Homo sapiens: one gene and its partners. The protein of the gene in region 2 interacts with the protein of the main gene of each other region in a biochemical or structural test. Each region holds a gene or a part of one and is shown on either strand. Other genes may lie near its edges. The genes, in order: TGFBR1, NRP1, VEGFB, SEMA3A and TGFBR2.

Evidence for each region.
Region 1: the proteins of NRP1 (region 2) and TGFBR1 form a complex in vitro, tested with the Homo sapiens proteins (one study listed by BioGRID).
Region 3: the proteins of NRP1 (region 2) and VEGFB form a complex in vitro, tested with the Homo sapiens proteins (one study listed by BioGRID).
Region 4: the proteins of NRP1 (region 2) and SEMA3A form a complex in vitro, tested with the Homo sapiens proteins (one study listed by BioGRID).
Region 5: the proteins of NRP1 (region 2) and TGFBR2 form a complex in vitro, tested with the Homo sapiens proteins (one study listed by BioGRID).

The regions. Positions count from the first base shown.
Region 1 is NC_000009.12:99,143,096-99,146,612, reverse strand, and holds part of TGFBR1 (TGF-beta receptor type-1 isoform 1 precursor), read right to left. Parts: intron 1,882-3,517; coding exon 1,725-1,881; intron 1,117-1,724; exon of another isoform or gene 1,001-1,116; intron 129-1,000; coding exon 4-128; intron 1-3. UniProt on the Homo sapiens protein: Transmembrane serine/threonine kinase forming with the TGF-beta type II serine/threonine kinase receptor, TGFBR2, the non-promiscuous receptor for the TGF-beta cytokines TGFB1, TGFB2 and TGFB3.
Region 2 is NC_000010.11:33,181,161-33,184,677, reverse strand, and holds part of NRP1 (neuropilin-1 isoform a precursor), read left to right. Parts: intron 1-1,929; coding exon 1,930-1,980; intron 1,981-3,517. UniProt on the Homo sapiens protein: Cell-surface receptor involved in the development of the cardiovascular system, in angiogenesis, in the formation of certain neuronal circuits and in organogenesis outside the nervous system. Mediates the chemorepulsant activity of semaphorins.
Region 3 is NC_000011.10:64,233,275-64,237,383, reverse strand, and holds the start of VEGFB (vascular endothelial growth factor B isoform VEGFB-186 precursor), read right to left. Parts: upstream 2,801-4,109; 5' UTR 2,551-2,800; coding exon 2,491-2,550; intron 1,927-2,490; coding exon 1,884-1,926; intron 1,572-1,883; coding exon 1,375-1,571; intron 1,131-1,374; coding exon 1,057-1,130; intron 198-1,056; coding exon 162-197; intron 1-161. Other genes in the region: DNAJC4 (dnaJ homolog subfamily C member 4), read right to left, coding at 3,271-3,490. UniProt on the Homo sapiens protein: Growth factor for endothelial cells. VEGF-B167 binds heparin and neuropilin-1 whereas the binding to neuropilin-1 of VEGF-B186 is regulated by proteolysis.
Region 4 is NC_000007.14:83,964,289-83,967,805, forward strand, and holds part of SEMA3A (semaphorin-3A precursor), read right to left. Parts: intron 1-3,517. UniProt on the Homo sapiens protein: Involved in the development of the olfactory system and in neuronal control of puberty. Induces the collapse and paralysis of neuronal growth cones. Could serve as a ligand that guides specific growth cones by a motility-inhibiting mechanism.
Region 5 is NC_000003.12:30,686,601-30,690,117, reverse strand, and holds part of TGFBR2 (TGF-beta receptor type-2 isoform B precursor), read right to left. Parts: intron 1,735-3,517; coding exon 1,607-1,734; intron 1-1,606. UniProt on the Homo sapiens protein: Transmembrane serine/threonine kinase forming with the TGF-beta type I serine/threonine kinase receptor, TGFBR1, the non-promiscuous receptor for the TGF-beta cytokines TGFB1, TGFB2 and TGFB3.

The DNA of each region.
Region 1 (3,517 bases), on a different chromosome or scaffold from region 2:
TACCACCAATGGAACATCGTCGAGCAATTTCCCAGAATACTAAGCCCATTGCATAGATGTCAGCACGTTTGAAGGATTCAAAATGTTTCATATTTATGGAATCATCGAGAACTTCAGGGGCCATGTACCTAAAAAAAATTTGCAAAAAGAACTTTGAAAATCATCCCCTTACTGCCATATTTGGATGAACCTCCTTTCAGACATTTCTTTATACATAGACATATGTACACAATATTACATAACAAATATTAGACTCAAGAAAAATATTAAATATCCACACTGGTTTGCACATTAATGATGTCAACTAAATCCCACAAAATGCTAAAATAGCAGTTTCACACTATCTGCCTCATGATCTTGGTTTCCAATGAAAGACATACATAACAATTGTGACTGTTAAAGGTGTCCTAATGTACACCACCTATACACGTACTAGGTAGAAACCATGCATTTTAATTTAGAAGTCTTCTCACTGAGGATGAAAGGAAGGGCACGAATATACTCCAGGGAAAAAAATAATAGATACAAAAGAATGCCAGTCCTCATACTGAAGCTTCAAAAACCTACCAAAATTATGGGTCAGGACCCACAGAGACCTACAGCAACCACTGACAAGGACCCCTTAGCTGGTTGAGAATTGAGAGTCATCTACGGCCATACCACCCTAAACACGCCCGATCTCGTCTGATCTTGGAAGCTAAGCAGGGTCGGGCCTGCTTAGTACTTGGATGGGAAAATTGAGAGTCCCCAGGGAATCCAGAAATCTCAAAATTATACATGCAATTTGAATAGACTAATGCTGCTGGCTCTCCAGCTGTCTCCAAGGCCAAGACAGTAGTTTGAAAAAATGCTGTGACAGCTTGTGATAAGGGGTTTGGGTCAGAAATGCCCAGGTTCAAATCTCAGCTCTTCGGCTTATCATCCACATGAAGCTGGCCATATTATTTAACCTCCTCAAGGTGGTTTCCTCATCTGTGAATTAAAGGGTAATAACACCTACCTAATTAAGTTCTTTTGAAGACTCATGGACTCAACAAATATCTACTGAGGATCTACCATGTATTAGGCACTGTGATGGATGCTGGGAATACAAGGCTGCTCTCAAGCAGCTTGCACCTAATAGAATATATAGGCAAATAAATAAACAGTTACAACATAACGCATAAGTGCCTCAACGGTCCCAGTTCAGTGTGCTATGACAGTCCCTGGCAGGGACTCCTAAGATTTTTGAGGACTAGAAAAAACTTCCTACGGGAAAGGTGGGTATGAGGCTGAGAAACAGTAGGGTAAAGTATGCTCCAGGAGACAGCATGTGCAAAAGTTCTAAGAAAGCAAGAAAGGCATATTTTTAGGAACTGAAATATGAAAATAGCAGGGCTAGCTACTGCACAGTATTTGAGAAGGGATTAAATGAGGTAATATACGTAAAAGACCTATTAGACGATTGGCACATAGTAGGTGCCCTATAAACGTTAGTTACTACTGTTATTATAATTAACATGCCTAATGATATTTTCTGGAAGGGCAACCTTTCATCAGCAGGCATCTTTTTAAGTCAGGTAACTCTGGCTTCAGAGCAGGCAAGACCATGAGATCTTCTTACCTGTTGGCAATCTAATAAAGTGCAAGTTTAAGCTGAGTTTCAGCAATGATATGTATATATGAAAGAGAAGGGAAAAAAGGTGATTTCAGAAGATATTAAATATAGTTGTTCAAAAGTATACCTTTTTGTTCCCACTCTGTGGTTTGGAGCAATATCAATGGTATCTGTGGCTGAATCATGTCTTACTGCCAGTCCTAAGTCTGCAATACAGCAAGTTCCATTCTTCTTTACCAAGATATTCTTTGATTTCAAATCTCTATGAGCAATGGCTGGCTTTCCTAAAGAATCAAAAATTAAACATGACTGCTTAAAAGGTAATACCAATCACAACTCACATCTTTAGGTTCAAAAGTCTCTTCTCCCAACCCAAATTATCAAAGCATTTCAGCCCACATGACCTACAATACTTACGGCATTATTAAACTCAAGTGAATCACTACACCAAAAGTCACTGAATTTATATTTCTTTAAAGAAAATGTGGACAATAACATGCTTTAAAAGATGAACAACTCAAAGACTGGGGCAAAAAAAAAGTTATCAGTTTATCTGTTGGTGCCTTATGAATTCTTTTTAAGAAACTTAGCCATAGACTGATATTCCAGCAGCCCAGGAACCAAGCATGTAGAACATCACTTCCCTATCAACTGCAATGTACTCAGTATTAAGTATATTATCTTTGATGCTAACCACTAGAAAATGTTATTAAAAAATAATAATTATAATGTGGAAAACCTGGAACCTTCATACACTGCTGGCAGGAATGTAAAATGGTTCAGGCACTTTAAGAAAATAGTATGGCAGTTCTTCAAACCATTAAATAGAGTTATCATATGATACAGTAATTCAACTCCTAGGTATATACCCAAGATAACTGAAAACATGAAACTACATACAACTTGTACACAAATGTTCACTGCAGCATTAGCTACAATGGCCAAAAGAAACAAACCAAATGTCCATCAACGAACGGATATATGACATATGCCATATCCATACACTGAAGTATTACTTAGCCATCAAAATGACTGAAGTACTCATACGTGCTACAACATAAATGAACCTTGAAAACATGCTAAGTGAAAGAAGCCAGTCACAAAAGACCACATATTGTATGATTCATTTATATAAAATGTGCAGAATAAGCAAATCTACAGACAAAAAGGAGCAGTTGTTGCCTAGGGCTAAGGAGTTTGGGAGGAAAGGGGAGTGACTGCTAGTGGCTACAGGGTTTCTCTTTGGAGTGAAGATATTCTAAAATTGACTGTAGTGTTTGCTGGCTGTACAACTCTGAGTATTCTAAAAACCACTGAATTTTACACTTTAAGTGGGTGAACTTTATGATGTGAATTATAACTCAATAAAACTGTTACAATCAATAATAATAATAACTACAAAGATGGAGCTAAGATGTGAACTAGCACTTATGCTGTATGTAAAGTGGGGAGTGGGGGAGCCATTGGGTTGCAAGTGGACAACTGCTAGAGCAGAGAGATATACTGGCATCTGAAATCCCACATGCACAAAAACTACAGCATACAAATGTCATAACTAAAACTTAGTATTTAATTTTTCAACTGTAAAACTATCTCATGCAGTCTCCTTATCTCAAGGTCAAATATAATTATTAGATGGCCAGATAACAGTTACCTAGCATGTTGATGTTTACAAAGCACTTTCACATTTCATTTGATACTACACATAAAAATATATTCAGTTGGACCTGAATTCTGAAACTGAGATCCTCAAAAATCATAAGATTGAATGCTACTTTTAAGAACTCAAAAAAAATCACAGTTTTGTTACAACGACTAGAGAATCTCTAAACAAATTTCCAGATTCCTAGCTCTACCTGAAATTTTGAACTGAAAGATAAAATGTTCTCATCTAAAAAATTTGTTTTAAATATCTCCAGT
Region 2 (3,517 bases):
TATTAAAGGGAATCTGCTTAGTGCTGCACTATTTAGCAAATCTTCACAAGAATGATAAGGCTTAATAGTTTAGTTGCAACTCCTTTACAAATTACCCACATCCATATCTACACTGCTGTAAAAATGTGTATTTCATGTAGTAACACAGTGTCTGTGATTTCTTCACTTCTCCATTCCAAAGTGAGAGTGATGATGGTGATGTTTTGGGATGTGAGAACAAACTCCACAGACTAAAACAAAGAAACGAAATTAAATTCAGTTCAACAAGTTCTAACGAAATTCAATTCGGTTCAACAAGTTCTAACTGACTACATACCATATGCAAAGCAGCATGCGGATGCTCCAGTGAAAGTACATGGCTGAGCCGGGTGCAGTGGCTCACGTCTGTCATCCCAGCACTTTGGGAGGCCGAGGCAGGAGGATCATTTGAGATCAGGAGTTTAGGACCAGCCTGGCCAACATGGCAAAACCCCATCTCTACTAAAAAATACAAAAATTAGCTGGGCGTGGTGGCACGCAGCTGTAGTAATCCCAGCTACTCGGAAGGCTGAGGCAGGAGAATTGCTTGAACCCAGGAGGCGGAAGTTGCAGTGAGCCAAGGTCATACCATTGCACTCCAGCCTAGGCCACAGAGCAAGACCCCATTTCAAAAAAAAGAAAAAAGAAGGAAGGAAGGAAGGGAGAAAAGAAAAGAAAGCACATAGTTGAGACAATTCTATGGGACTTTTTCTTTTCTTGTGATTTGTCCATTTAGCTGTAGTTGCTGCCAGACATTGTAGTGGGAAATTCACAACTACGGCTCCATTAAACCACTTTGTTTATTTGTTTATGCTGCTACCAATAAAAATATGTGTAAGACAATTGTACAATGATTCATCAAATATGCATCCTTGAACATCTGGGTGTGGATGCTATGAGATTATCAACTATTTATTAATCTTTCATTCATTCATACATAGAACAAATATCTATTAAAGCACCTATGATGTGCTAGACACTGTTGTAAATGCTGGAATACAGCAGTGGACAAAGCACTCAAAAATTCCTGCTCTGTACTTAGTACCACAGGAATACTGGAACTCTACTTCTTCAATAGCTATTTTATGTATTTATCTATTTTTGTAATACACAGGGCACAGTCTCTTGCCTCAAAGAGTTGGCATACTATTCGAGAAGCCAAACTAACGCACACTAAATTTAGGAAGCAGTTATCTACAAACTATAGGATGGTCACCATATGTACGAATCTACTTCAGTAGAACCTATATTCACCAGATTTTTTTCCACATTTCAGATGCCAAAACCATGTCTCTTCCCCCTTCTCTTCTTTTTTTTTTTTTTTAAATTTGTTGTTGTTGTTTTTGCTTTTTTGAGACAGGCTCTTGCTTCCGTCACCCAGGGTGGAGTGCAGTGGCACCATCATGGCTCACTGTAAACTCCATCTCCTGGGCACAAGCTCTCCTTCCGCCTCAGCCTCCTAAGCAGCTGGAAAGCTAATTTTTTTATTTTTGTAGAGATGGGATCTCACTATGTTGCCCAGGCTGGTCCTAAACTCCTAGCCTAATGTGGTTCTCCTGCCTTGCCCTCTCAAAGTGCTGGAATTATAGGCACGAGCCAGCATACCCAGCCCACCCTTGTCTCCTAAAACAACAGATTCTGCTAGCAGCAGTGCTACCTGGATTTAGATATGGCACCTTAAAGGCAGTGTTGTGATGTCACATTACCAATTTCCCGGTCATTTAACATTGCCTCTTTATTGATCTGTTTGGTGATTTCTGATTGAACTAAAAAATCCAAAAGGAGCCCAGTAGACACGTGTGTGTGTGTGTGTGTGTGTGTGTGTGCATGTACCTAAAGGTTTGTGTAGTTTGGTGCATTATATTTTGATGGCAGTTCAAATATCTCTTTCAATTTTGTTTGACTTGTCAGAACCAGCAGACCTGGATAAAAAGAACCCAGAAATTAAAATTGATGAAACAGGTAAATTTGTCTTGCTGACCAATTTTTAAAAAATTTTACTATGGCTTTCATTGTGTTTATGAAGAAACTTTGTGGAACTCTAATACACTGGTATGTCAAAAAGTTCAAATAAAAAACATCTATGCCCATGGCCCTGGGTTGGTGCTGTGGATCGGATTGTGCTCACAGAGTACCCACTTCCGAGCTGCCCATAAGACTTGGGGAGCCTCGGTGACGGGTCCTGCTTGTACACCTGGTTGAGCCTGGGAAGTGTGCTCACCCTGGCCCTTCCCTGCCCAGTCTAGAGGTGGAACATAAAGGATAATCAGCTCAAACACACTCAGTTTATCACTACAAAGACAGAAAATTAGTGAAGACTATTTCCATACACAGTTATTTGAAACCAACCGAAATTCTTCTGTTTGTTGATATCCAGCTAGGATCTTTAAGAGACCAGAGCCCAATTTCTGAGATAATCCATTGTGTTTGATTCATCTTTTCCCATCTTCCTCTACTAGAACCTTGGTTTTGTGATGATGATGATGATGATAAGAAGGATTTATTGAAGAGTTAGTATGTTCTGAGCACTTTACTTACCTGATCTTTTTCTTTTCTTTTTTTCTTGAGACAGAGTCTGTCTCTGTCACCCAGGCTTGGAGTGCAGTGGCGTGATCTCAGCTCACTGCAGCCTCCACCTGCCAGGTTCAAGCGATTTTCCTGCCTCAACCTTCCGAGCAGACTACAGGCCCACACCACCACACTCAACTTATTTTTTTGTCTTTTGTAAGGTGGAGTTTCACCATGTTGCCCAGGCTGGTCTTGAATTCCTTAGCTTAAGCAATTCCCTGGCCTCAGCCTCCTAAAGTGCTGGGATTACAGGCGTGAGCCACTGCACCCGTCCTACATACCTTATCTTATTTAATCCTCACAGCAGCTCTAGGGGTTGTATTTGTCCCCATTTTACAGATAGTGAGACTGAAACTTAAGTAGCATAGCTAATTAGGTGGTAGCCTCACACTTTAGCCTGATGAACTATAAATGTGTGTTTTTGCTGAACGCTGCTTTGTGATCAAATGCAAGACCTTTGATCAGAGTTAGGCCTTGCCTGGTATTAGTCTATTCCCAGAAGTTTCCAGATCTCCCAGCCAGCATTGTGGGCTGTTGGACACTTGCTCCACCATCACTCACAGCTGCTGTGTGGATGGTGCTGCACCCTTATCATCAATGCATGTCAGCATCTGTTGCCCTTAGAAATGGGATCCTACTCTATGGCCAGCCGTGGACTTCATAGAGACAAATAAATATTGCACCTTGCTGTTAGTAATATGAACACATTACCAAGTCCACACAGAGATGTAAACTTTATTAGAGGTTGTTTCAAAACAATATTTCATCAAGGGAGAGAGTATTAATATGCCCCAAGGCTTGTTTTCTCTTGGTTAGGGATTTGCATCTCATATTTTTAGTTTTCTTTGATTGGAATCTTTGTTGATCAGAACACCATTAAGTAAACCCCAGGCATATTGTGCGTTAACATTTTCATCCCGTTTCTAGTACC
Region 3 (4,109 bases), on a different chromosome or scaffold from region 2:
AAGAGTCTTCCCTAGAGCTGGGGTCGGGGCAGAGAACACAGGCTTGGGGAGCAGAGGAAAAGGGAAAGTGGGGGACGGGTGGGAGGAGAAAGAGGAGCAACAGCTTCTGGACTCACTTGTACTCCCCATACCCCTACTCAGCTGGAGTCCAAAAGACTCACCTGTCTGGCTTCACAGCACTGTCCTTTTTTTTAGGTCTGAAAAGTAAGATAGACAGACACAGACAAACAAGAGGAAGATCAGGAAATCCCAGCATCCTACTCTCTCTCTCTCTCTCTCTCTCTCTCTCTCTCTCTCTTTGAGACTGTGTTTCCCTCTTCTTGCCCAGGCTGGAGTGCAGTGGCGTGGTCTCGGCTCACTGCAACCTCCGCCTCCCAGGTTCAAGCTATTCTCTTGTCTCAGCCTCCCAAGTAGCTGGGATTACAGGCACCTGCCACCATGCGCGGCTAATTTTTGTATTTTTTTTTAGTAGAGATGGGGTTTCACCATGTTGGCCAGGCTGGTCTCAAACGCCTTACCTCAGGTGATCTGCCTGCCTGGGCCTCCCAAAGTGCTGGGATTATAGGTGTGAGCCACTACCCCCGGCCCAAGCATCCTACTTTGTTGCCCCAGATCCAAGGCCTACCCTTGGCTCTACTCTTTTTTTTTTTTTTTTTTTTTTTTTTTTGTGGCAGAGTCTTGCTCTGTCGCCCAGGCTGGAATGCAGTGGCACGATCTTGGCTCACTGCAAGCTACGCCTCCCAGGTTCATGCCATTCTCCTGCCTCAGCCTCCGGAGTAGCTGGGACTACAGGTGCCCGCCACCACGCCCGGCTAATTTTTTGTATTTTTTTAGTAGAGACAGGTTTTTACCATGTTAGCCAGGATGGTCTCGATCTCCTGACCTCATGATCCGCCCGCCTCGGCCTCCCAAAGTGCTGGGATTACAGGCGTGAGCTACCACGCCCGGCCCCTTGGTTCTACTCTTAGGAACCTGGTCCCCAGTTCTGTGGACCACCATACCCAGCACCCCCCAAGCCTGGCCTCTGCGAGCTCAGAAGTTGGGCCTGGCTGGCACCTGCATTCACACTGGCTGTGTTCTTCCAGGGACATCTCCCCCAGCTGACTGCTCGGGTACCGGATCATGAGGATCTGTGCTCAGGAGAAGAACAGGGGGGACAGTGAGGGAGAGAGAGAAAGGGGATGCTCTAAGACTGAAGGGAGAAAAGCTCACCCAACAGCCGGGAGGCTGGCCACCAGCCCTCCCCCCAACCCTGTCTCCTGTGCATCAGTCTCCAGGCTGCCCCAGCCCCAGAGCCAGCCAGCATCCACCCTGCCCGCTGCCCCACCTGCCCAGTACCTGCATCCCCTGCCCGTTGCCCCACCTGCCCAGTACCTGCATCCGGACTTGGTGCTGCCCAGTGGGCACACACTCCAGGCCATCGTCAGGGCAGCAGCCACCACAGCGCTGCACAGTCACGCAGCTGGGCACCAGCTGTTTGGCCACGGTGCCCATGAGCTCCACAGTCAAGGGCACCACCACCTCCCGGGGCTGGCAGGTAGCGCGAGTATACACATCTATCCATGACACCACTGGGAGCAGACCGGTAGGGGTTAAGTCCTCACTGGTTTTCCTGCAGCTGCTCCCAGCATCTGTCCTCCCCAGTCCCCAAGTCACAGCCACCCTCCACTAGCCCTCCCCACTCTGCCCTCACAACCTGTCTTCCCCTGCCCTGTTTATCCAGATCCCAGTAACCCCACTGCCTCAATTTCCTCCTCTGTGAAATGGGTAGAATAATAGTTTGAATCTTCTAGGGGAGTTACACAAGATGATGGACACCTGGAATCAGGGCCCATGACAAACCCTCTTAGTGCTGGCTAGTGCCGAGTTTTTGTAAGTATTACCTTTCCTCTGGTGGCCAGGGGCATCAGGCTGGGAGACAGGGGCCTGTGGGAGAGAAAAGACCTGTACCCAAGGTACACTTTAGGAGGGTGTGGCCCTGTCACCGTCCCTGGGGCTTTGCCCTTGCATCAGTAGGCTTCACCACCTCTCTGACATCTTTCCAGATTGCTCTGTTCCTGCGGCCACTGCTCTAGCTTTACCTGTCCTCTCCTGGCCACCCGGGACCTGCCCTGGCCCAAAACGCAACAGGTGCTCTGGTGGCCGCGCCAAATCTCCAGGCCGCGGAGCCGAGCATGTTTGGGGGCTGCATGCAGATCAGGAGCGCGCACAGTGCCCACCGAAGCAGGTCCTGCAGGCACCGAGGGAGCCCCGCCCCCGGCGGTGCCCAGGGGACGGGGTGGGGCGGAGGAGTGGCCCCAGACTGGGGCTGGCGGGCCAGCGGGGAGGGGCACCTCCCAGGGGATGCACGCGCCGGGCCCCCGAGACGCCCGCGTCCAAGGCCGGACCCCGCAGATCCCCTCGGCCGAGGCCGCGGGTCGCCTCCTCACTTCCGCCAACCTTGAGAGAGGGCACGGCGGGCGGGCGGGCGCGCTGTCGGGCCGCACGTACCTGGGCGGGGGCCAGCTGCAGGAGTGCGGCGAGCAGCAGGCGGCGGAGCAGAGGGCTCATGGTGCCCGCCGGGGCCGCCCGCCGGGGGCGCCCGCATCGCCCTAGCCCGGCGGCGCGGGGGGCGGCGACAGCCAGAGCCCCATGGCGCGGGCCCGGGCGCGGCGGGCGGGGGCCGGGCGCGGGGGGCGACTCCTCCGCGGCCCCCTCCCGAGCCCTGGGTGCAGGCAGCGCAGCGCAGCGCAGCGGAGGCGGCCGGAGGAGCCGGGCGGGCGGGCGGCCGGTGGCGGCGGGCAGCGGCGGCGGGGACGGCGGGGGCGGCGGGGGGCTGGGCCCGGGCTGGCGGGCAGGCGGCTCATGTGACCCAGACACGCGCTCCCCACCGGCCCGTGGGGCGGGGGCGGGGCGGCGGGGTGGGGGGGCGAGGCCGTCGGCGGGGCCCGCCTCCTCCACACACCCCCTCCCGCCTCCCGCCGCGGCAGGGGAAAGGGGACGCACCGCCCAGGAGGCTGGGCTCCCCAGTCGCCGCCGCCACTACCCGGAGGGCGGGGCGCTGCCCCTTGGCGAGGCCGGGGCCGGGGGCGTCGGGCCTTAAGGAGGGAGCCGGACACGAGCTCTGCGAATCACTTTATTGCGCGCGTTTCGGGGAGCGGGCCGTCCAGGGAAGGAAGCAAAGCGGGAACGCACTGCAGGCCCCATCCAGGTGAGCCCCTCAGGGGCCGGCGCCCCGGGGCACGATCTCGGGGCCTTGGGTTGGCTCGGATGGTGGCGGCTGCCGCTGCCCTAGCCGTTGTCGCTCCTGCTGAAGGATGCCTCTGTTGGCCCTGGAGGAGAGGGCACCTGGGTGGTTGGGATAGGGATCCCGAAGTGTGGTTCCTGGACAGGGAGCAGGGAGCAGAATAGAGCAGGGACAGACCTGGCCCGTGCCCGGGCTTCGTTGTAGAAGGCTGTGATGATCCGATCCTTTTCATCCATGAAGTTAAGGTGCATCTGCTTCACCTTCCTGCAATGGGTCACAATTAACCCTGGGAATCCAATTCCTGCTGTCCCTGAAGTCCTGCCCCCTTCCACCCCACTCTAGGGGCCTCACAGCTTTTTACCCTTACACAGGGTTAGGAACCTCAGTCTAACCCTTCCTGTGATAGATAGGGAGGGCTCAGAGTGGCCCTGGCTTGTCTAGGGTCCAATGGCATCCGAAGTCCCTGGTCACTTTGAGGTGTGACAGCAGCTGTGGACATGGGGGTGCTCCTCCCAGAAGACTAGAAAGGGTATGCGTCTAACTCCATCACTGAACTAGGCAGGCTGCTAGCAGTGGGCACTGGCCTTTAGGTATCTGCTATAGAAAATCGGCTTTGTGGCCAGGCGCGGTAGCTCTCACCTGTAATCCCAGTACTTTGGGAGGCTGAGGCGGGTGGATCACCTGAGGTCAGGAGTTTGAGACCAGCCTGGCCAATATGGTGAAACCCCATCTCTACTAAAAATACAAAACAACTAGCCGGGTGTGGTGGTGGACGCCTGTAGTCCCAGCTACTCGGGAGGCTGAGACAGAAGAATTGCTTGAACCTGGGAGGCAGAGGTGGGGTTGCAGTGAGCCGAGATTGCGCCACTGCACTGCAGCCTGG
Region 4 (3,517 bases), on a different chromosome or scaffold from region 2:
ATTAATTTAGAAAATAATAAATATGTTTTACATGCACAGAAAGCTGACAGTGTAGACAGATGAAAAATTTTTGCTCTCTACTTCAAACTCAGCTAGATTTTTAATTTAAAAAATGTTTTCCCCTTTTTTGTCATCACTTTGACAGTTTTACTCTTGTCATAATCAACTGAATACCTTTGACTGTCATAGCTGATGATTTGCTCTCACTAGGTTTAAAGCCTTCAAAAATGCTACTCCCATACAATCCCTGTACAAGGCCTGTGTCTATCATCTCCTACCCTCATCATACCCTACCTACTTCATTCCACCTTCTACCTTCAATTGCTGTCTACAGAGGTGTCAACCTCAGTGCCTGTTTCTCAAATGCCCTAGGTGTGAAACAAAACTCTTCCAATATTGGGAATTATCTGTCTCTTATTGAAAAGATCAATGCCCTGGAAATAGGAAAATAAATCAGAAATGATTGCAATGTAAAGAAATAATATTTAACTGATTCCAAGTCACATTTAAAAAAAATTGGACATGCATATCTTCATGTGCCAATATCTATATTGTATAGGCTGTTTTTTTTTCCCCTCTGAGATTATTAGTGCGTCTTGAATTGAATGCATATGGAACATGTTGCTATACTCATTTGTAAGATAGCTGCTTCCTGGGATACAGGTGAATTTAATTGCTATGGCCAACAGGGGCTGGAAAATCTGTAATTCAGGAGCTACCTGAATAATTAGAATGCATTGTCACAGAAGTTAATGCTATTTACATTGAATACTTTTTTTTCTAACTGTTCTGTGATTTAAACTTTTTTGTATTTTTTTTTTTTTGTATTTTTAGTAGAGATGGGGTTTCGCCATTTTAGCCAGCATGGTCCCGATCTCCTGACCTCGTGATCCGCCCGCCTCGGCCTCCCAAAGTGCTGGGATTACAGGCATGAGCCACCGCGTCCGGCCCGTTTAAACTTTTCTTTATTAAGAAATACTTTTAGGAGGAGACCTTTCATTCAATCTCTATATATGAATGAATTATATATGACATCAAAATATAGAAAAATCCACTGGATTTAGAAACAAACAACCCAGTGATCTGCCAGCATCTCCTTTATCAACAGCCATGTCTCCTAGGTCTATTTTCCCAGGTAGAAATTTATAACTGCAACTGACTTGTCTCTTGCATAATCTGCTAAAGCTACTAAAGAAAACTATGGTATAAATTACTACTCTCAAAGATAGAATTTCATATAAATCCTTCAATACATTAATTGACTCAGATAAGAGGAGTCACGTAACTAGTATAATAGAAAATAAAAGTGTTTCAATACCAATGTAACACCAATGGGTGCATATATATATATATATATATATATATATATATATATATATTTTTTTTTTTTTTTTTTTTTTTTTTTTTTTTGAGACGGAGTCTTACTCTGTCTCCCAGGCTGGAGTTCAGTGGTGCGATCTCGGCTCACTGCAAGCTCCGCCTCCCGGGTTCATGCCATTCTCCTGCCTCAGCCTCCCAAGTAGCTGGGACTACAGGTGCCTGCCACCACGCCCAGCTAGTTTTTCGTATTTTAATAGAGGCAGGGTTTCAACGTGTTAGCCAGGATGGTCTCGATCTCCTGACCTCGTGATCCGCCCACCTCAGCCTCCCAAAGTGCTGGGATTACAGGTGTGAGCCACCGCGCCCAGCCACCAATGGGTGCATTAAAAAAAAATCACTTAGTTGTCTTCTTTCTAACTAATTTAATCATTCTAGTTAGTCCACAGAGATAATTTTCTGGTAATCTTTCTTGTAGTTCTAGGTAACTGCTCAGTTTTCATTTCCTCTTCAGGACATCCTCTGGTGGTGGCAAGCTTTTTCCAATGTACCAGAAAACATGTAAAAATAGTTCTTTCAATAGAAAATATTCTTTTATTAAAAAATTATTTCATTTGATCTGCTACTTCTTCATAGTGGAATCTAGACTATAGACTATAGTCTTATAGACTTATAGACTATAAGATGGTGTTTGATTTAGCAATTATGATAACAAATTGTTTTTAGTTTAATATACTAATATTTCACTCTCTTCAAGAAACATTCTGATATTCAGGTACTTTCTCACCTAAATAAGGCAAGAACCACAATAGGTTAATTTGGTTTATGAGCTTGGTGCCCTTAGTAAGTTTGCTTTGATAACTACTCTTGCCAGTACCTCAAAGTCTCATTATTTCCCAAGTTTACCCTTTCTTTCCCCTTTTTGTCCAACAAAAAGAAACAGAATCATCCAGCTAGTGACCGGTGAGGCTAAAAGCCCTGTCATGTTAACTATCAATCACGATCAAGATACAGCGATACTATTGTATTTCTTTGGTTTAAGATTCTCCTATTTTATATTTTGTTAGGTTCTGCTGCGATCAGCAATAATTATTAAAAGTAAATTTTTTTTCTTTTTTTTTTTGAGACGGAGTTTCCCTATTGTTGCCCAGGCTGGAGTGCAATGGCGTGATCTCGGCTCACGGCAACCTCCGCCTCCCGGGTTCAAGCGATTCTCCTGCCTCAGACTCCCTAGTAGCTGGGATTACAGGCATGCGCCACCACGCCCAGCTAATTTTGTATTTTTAGTAGAGACAGGGTTTCTCCATGTTGGTTAGGCTGGTCTTGAACTCCCGACCTCAGGTGATTCGCCCGCCTCGGCCTCTCAAAGTGCTGGGATTACAGGCATGAGCCACCGCGCCCGGCCAAAAGTAAATTTTTATTGGATACAGTTATTTCTATTAAGTCTTCTGCCACAGGATGTTTCTACCATCAGCAGCTTCTGACTTAGGAACAGAACTTTTATTTAAAATGGCCTCAGCCAAGCACCCATCTATTTGGGTGTTCAGAAGTAAAAAATTTTCTGTTAATTTCCCCTAACCTGACATCTTATAAACAGATACCTAATCAATATTTTAAAATAATAATTAGAAGGCATTCAATAAATATCCTTTCCATTTCCTGAGTGCTCTACCGCAACCACTGGCATAAATTTTGTACAATATAGGAAACATTAGAAATCCATTAACAATGTGTTCTATCTCCCTCCAGCCCCCTTCTCTCCCCAGCTCCAGAAAAAAGTACGAACAGAAATAATATTTCGGTTCCTATCTTATAACCTTATTAAGTTCTTCACTTTTTCTTGGGATGTCAAACATACTGTCAATTTTGCCGGGCATGGTGGCTCACGCCTGTAATCCCAGCACTTTGGAAGGCTGAGGTGGACGGATCACTTGAGGTCTAGGGTTCAAGAACGGCCTGGCCAACATGGTGAAACCCCATTTCTACAAAAATACAAAAAATTAGTGGGGCATAATGGCGGGTACCTACAATCCCAGCTACTCTGGAGGCTGAGGCAGGAGAAGCGCTTGAATCTGGGAAGCGGAGGTTGCAGTGAGCCAAGATCGACCCATTGCACTCTAGCCTGGGTGACAGAGCAAGACTCAGTCTCAAAACAAACAAACAAAAAACTATCAATTTTAAAAATTTTGTTTTGTTTATA
Region 5 (3,517 bases), on a different chromosome or scaffold from region 2:
GGCACTTTTTCTACTTGTTTTCTAATACCAACAACTTTCCAAACACACCTAGGAGCCTATCTCTCCCTCCCCACCCGATGAGTTCATGATGTTAAATTAATTGCATAATTCACCTAATTGACAGTATTGACAGATGGCCCTGTTAAGAGTAGAGTGCTATTGTTGGTACACAAGTAACATTTATTTTATTCTGGCACTGTAATTACAGGCAGTAAATTAAATTAAATATTAAGCATTAACTTGAAATCAATAGGGCAACAAATCTCATTATGAGAAAAAATGTATTATGCAAATTCTTTTCAGAATTTTATCATCATGAATAATGGCATCATTACGAGAACTATACAGCAGAGGAGGCAACAGAGTTTGAAAGAAACATAACACTCCAGCACATTCTGATTTCAGAATTTATGCAAAATATTCTTACAGTTTTAGTGTCAAAGAGGATTTGCTCAAAACTCCAGAGAAGCCTGTGACCCACCACAGCCTGGTTCCCCCTCGCCAACCTCCTCGGACTTTATTAAGGTCTGTCTGCTGAAGTGGCTCTGGGCCAGGACTGGCACAGACCAGACTTCCTGCTCCATTTGTCTTCCCGATTGTGCCTGATTTGTTGTTTCTGTTTCTTATCTGAATTTGCCTTGCCCTTAGGGAAACCAACAACTTAGCCTCGGCCTTCATGGTTGAGGGAATTCATCCAAAAGAGGCAATAAAAGGTTTTAGTCAGTAGAAAGAACAGTCTTCTCAGTGAGATAGGGCCACACTGTTCTCTCTCATTCTTCACTAAGGGCTCCTTCCTGGGTGTGTCAGACATATAGCTGGTTCTGACTCACTCACAACCTATCGTTTTCTTTTTTCTCTGACCATTGCCCTCATCAAAGTGCCCCCAAACAAACAATTTGGATCAGCCTCTTTATGAGTCCAGAATGACTGCCCTGCTATGGACAGCCTTAGCTAGCATTTCTTAACAAGGAAAAATAAGAGGCCATTAGGATGTTCCCAACAGACAGATTTCTCGTTCCTTCCAGGGCATTCTCCTCTTCTTTGCTTTCCTTAATTCCAGAGTGAGGAGTCGGTCTCCTCTTTCCCACGCGTGCTCACTCAGGCCTCTCCCAAGTCTGTGAGCACAGCCTGCAAACACCTGTACACAGCCTTCTGCATGCCACAGTCACTTCTCACTACAGCTGCCTGACAAACCCTGCTTGTTTTGCATCTGCTAAGTATTTCCTTATGGAGCTGAAGATTCCCAGAAGAAAACATTTGGAATCCAGAGGGAATCAAATATAAACTCCTGACGTGAAGGCCCAGGAGTAAGTAGCAGAGGCTGCAAACAAAATGTTTTAACCCAGGACCAAGGGGGCTTGGAAAATGTGGCAAATGTCCTCCGAATGGCTATTTGTGAACTCTCAGAGTACATATCAGCTGGTTGGAGCCTATAATAATTGGGTTATCCACTGTATTGAAATTTGCTTTATAAACAAAATTTAACAGGGCCATAGAACACAATGGGACCTTCCCTCAGATTTAAGCTCAATATTCCAGAATTCTCTGCCACCTAAGAGGCAACTTGGTTGAATCTTACTGACCTTTGTAAACACTCACTCCTTACCTGGTGGTTGAGCCAGAAGCTGGGAATTTCTGGTCGCCCTCGATCTCTCAACACGTTGTCCTTCATGCTTTCGACACAGGGGTGCTCCCGCACCTTGGAACCAAATGGAGGCTCATAATCTTTTACTTCTGTGAAGAAAGCCAGCAAACACAGGGTCACTGAGAATGGCATGTGCAGCCAAAGGAAATGAGCATGGTGAGATGCCTGGCTGGGGAGCATGAAGCACTAAGTAACAAATACATACGTAATTACTCTAAGAGCAAATTTTAATAATAATGGCTAAGATAAGAAGGAAGGAGTGGTTGGGGAAGGGCTAGAGAAGTATTCAATAAATGATTGTTGAGTACTTAAAATGTGCTAGGTGTTACGCTGGGGGACACAGTGGACAACAAGATAGAGAGGGTCACGGAGCTTAGGTTTTAACACAGGCATTTTCTACAGGGGGATATTGCAGCAAAAGGGTGAAACTGGTTCTTGGGAAGTGGAAAAATCTTATGTATTACAATGGTTTGTGAGCCTCCAAAGGCCCAGAGTATACAAAGAGATTTAAAATGTGGTATTAAATTTCATGTAGGTATTGAGGCATAAAAAGGAATGAAACTCTGGCACATGCTACAACATGGATGAATCTTGAAGACATTATGCTAAGTGAAATAAGCCAGACACAAAAGGACAAATATTGTATCATTCCACTTGTATGAAGTACCTTGTACAGGTATATTCAGAGACAGTATAATGGTGGTTGTCCAGGGGGCAACCTGGGAGGAAAGGGTACGAAAAGTTATCCTTTAAGGGGTAAAGAATTTCAGTTGAGCAAATTTCAGTACAGAAAAATGAATAATGGTGATGGTTGTAGAGCACTGCGAAGGTACTTAATGCCAGTAAACTGTACACTTAAAAATGGTTAAGATGGTACATTTTATATTATGCCTATTTTGCTACAGAAAAACATCATGGAGAGTAGTGTTTAGAAAAAAAGTTGTCTACAGGCCAGGTGCTGTGGCTCATGTGTGTAATCCCAGCACTTTAGGAGGCTGAAGGAGGATATCTTGACTCCGGGAGTTTGAGACCAACCTGGGCAACATAGCGAGATCCTCTATCTATACAAAATAAAAAACAAAACAAGCAAACAAAAAAAGTTGTTTAAAAAGGCTCCTTACGATATCACTGATTTTAAAAAAGGTTGAGAAATGCTGTTTTAGTGGGAAGACAGAGGGGACAGATTAACAACATCAACAAAATTTTAAAACGATAATTTTCCTCTGATGGTATATTCAATAAAGAAAATGATAAAGGAGGAGGTAACCCTTCACCGGGGCCTCAGGCTTCAACTAAGGTCAAATTCTTTATAAAAACTTCCTTGAACATCCTTAGGGTCAATCTTGGTTAGATATCCTGGGCAGGGCTCTATTCGTGCATATACCATATTTTATTTAATATATTCACCTGCTTATTTTTCTCACCTAACTGGACTGTGAGCATTTGGGTGCAAGTTGAGTCCCTTTCTCATTCTTGTATTCTTGGTGCCAATTGCAAGGGTCTCCCATGCCAACAGGCTGTCAACAAATGCTTTGTTGAGTGAGTGAATGAATGAATGAATGAATGAATCTTAGATTCTCTCCAAAGTGGCAGTGCATAAACTCTGGCCAAACATTAAAACAAAACACCAATTTAAATGAGCAGATTAATATAGTGTAAACAGAGCACAGGACACTTAAAAAGATAGAAAACATCCCAGTACTAAAACATGCCTGGGCTGAAAGGAGAGATTGGGCTGGATTCAACACTGTTCTCCAAAGTAAGTAGGATCTTTGGCCTTTAGCTTCAAAATAATCTTATTTAATGAGTAAAACTTTCAATACATTTGCACTTCTAGGTAACGAATTGAAGAAGCTTTCATGGCAAGATGAC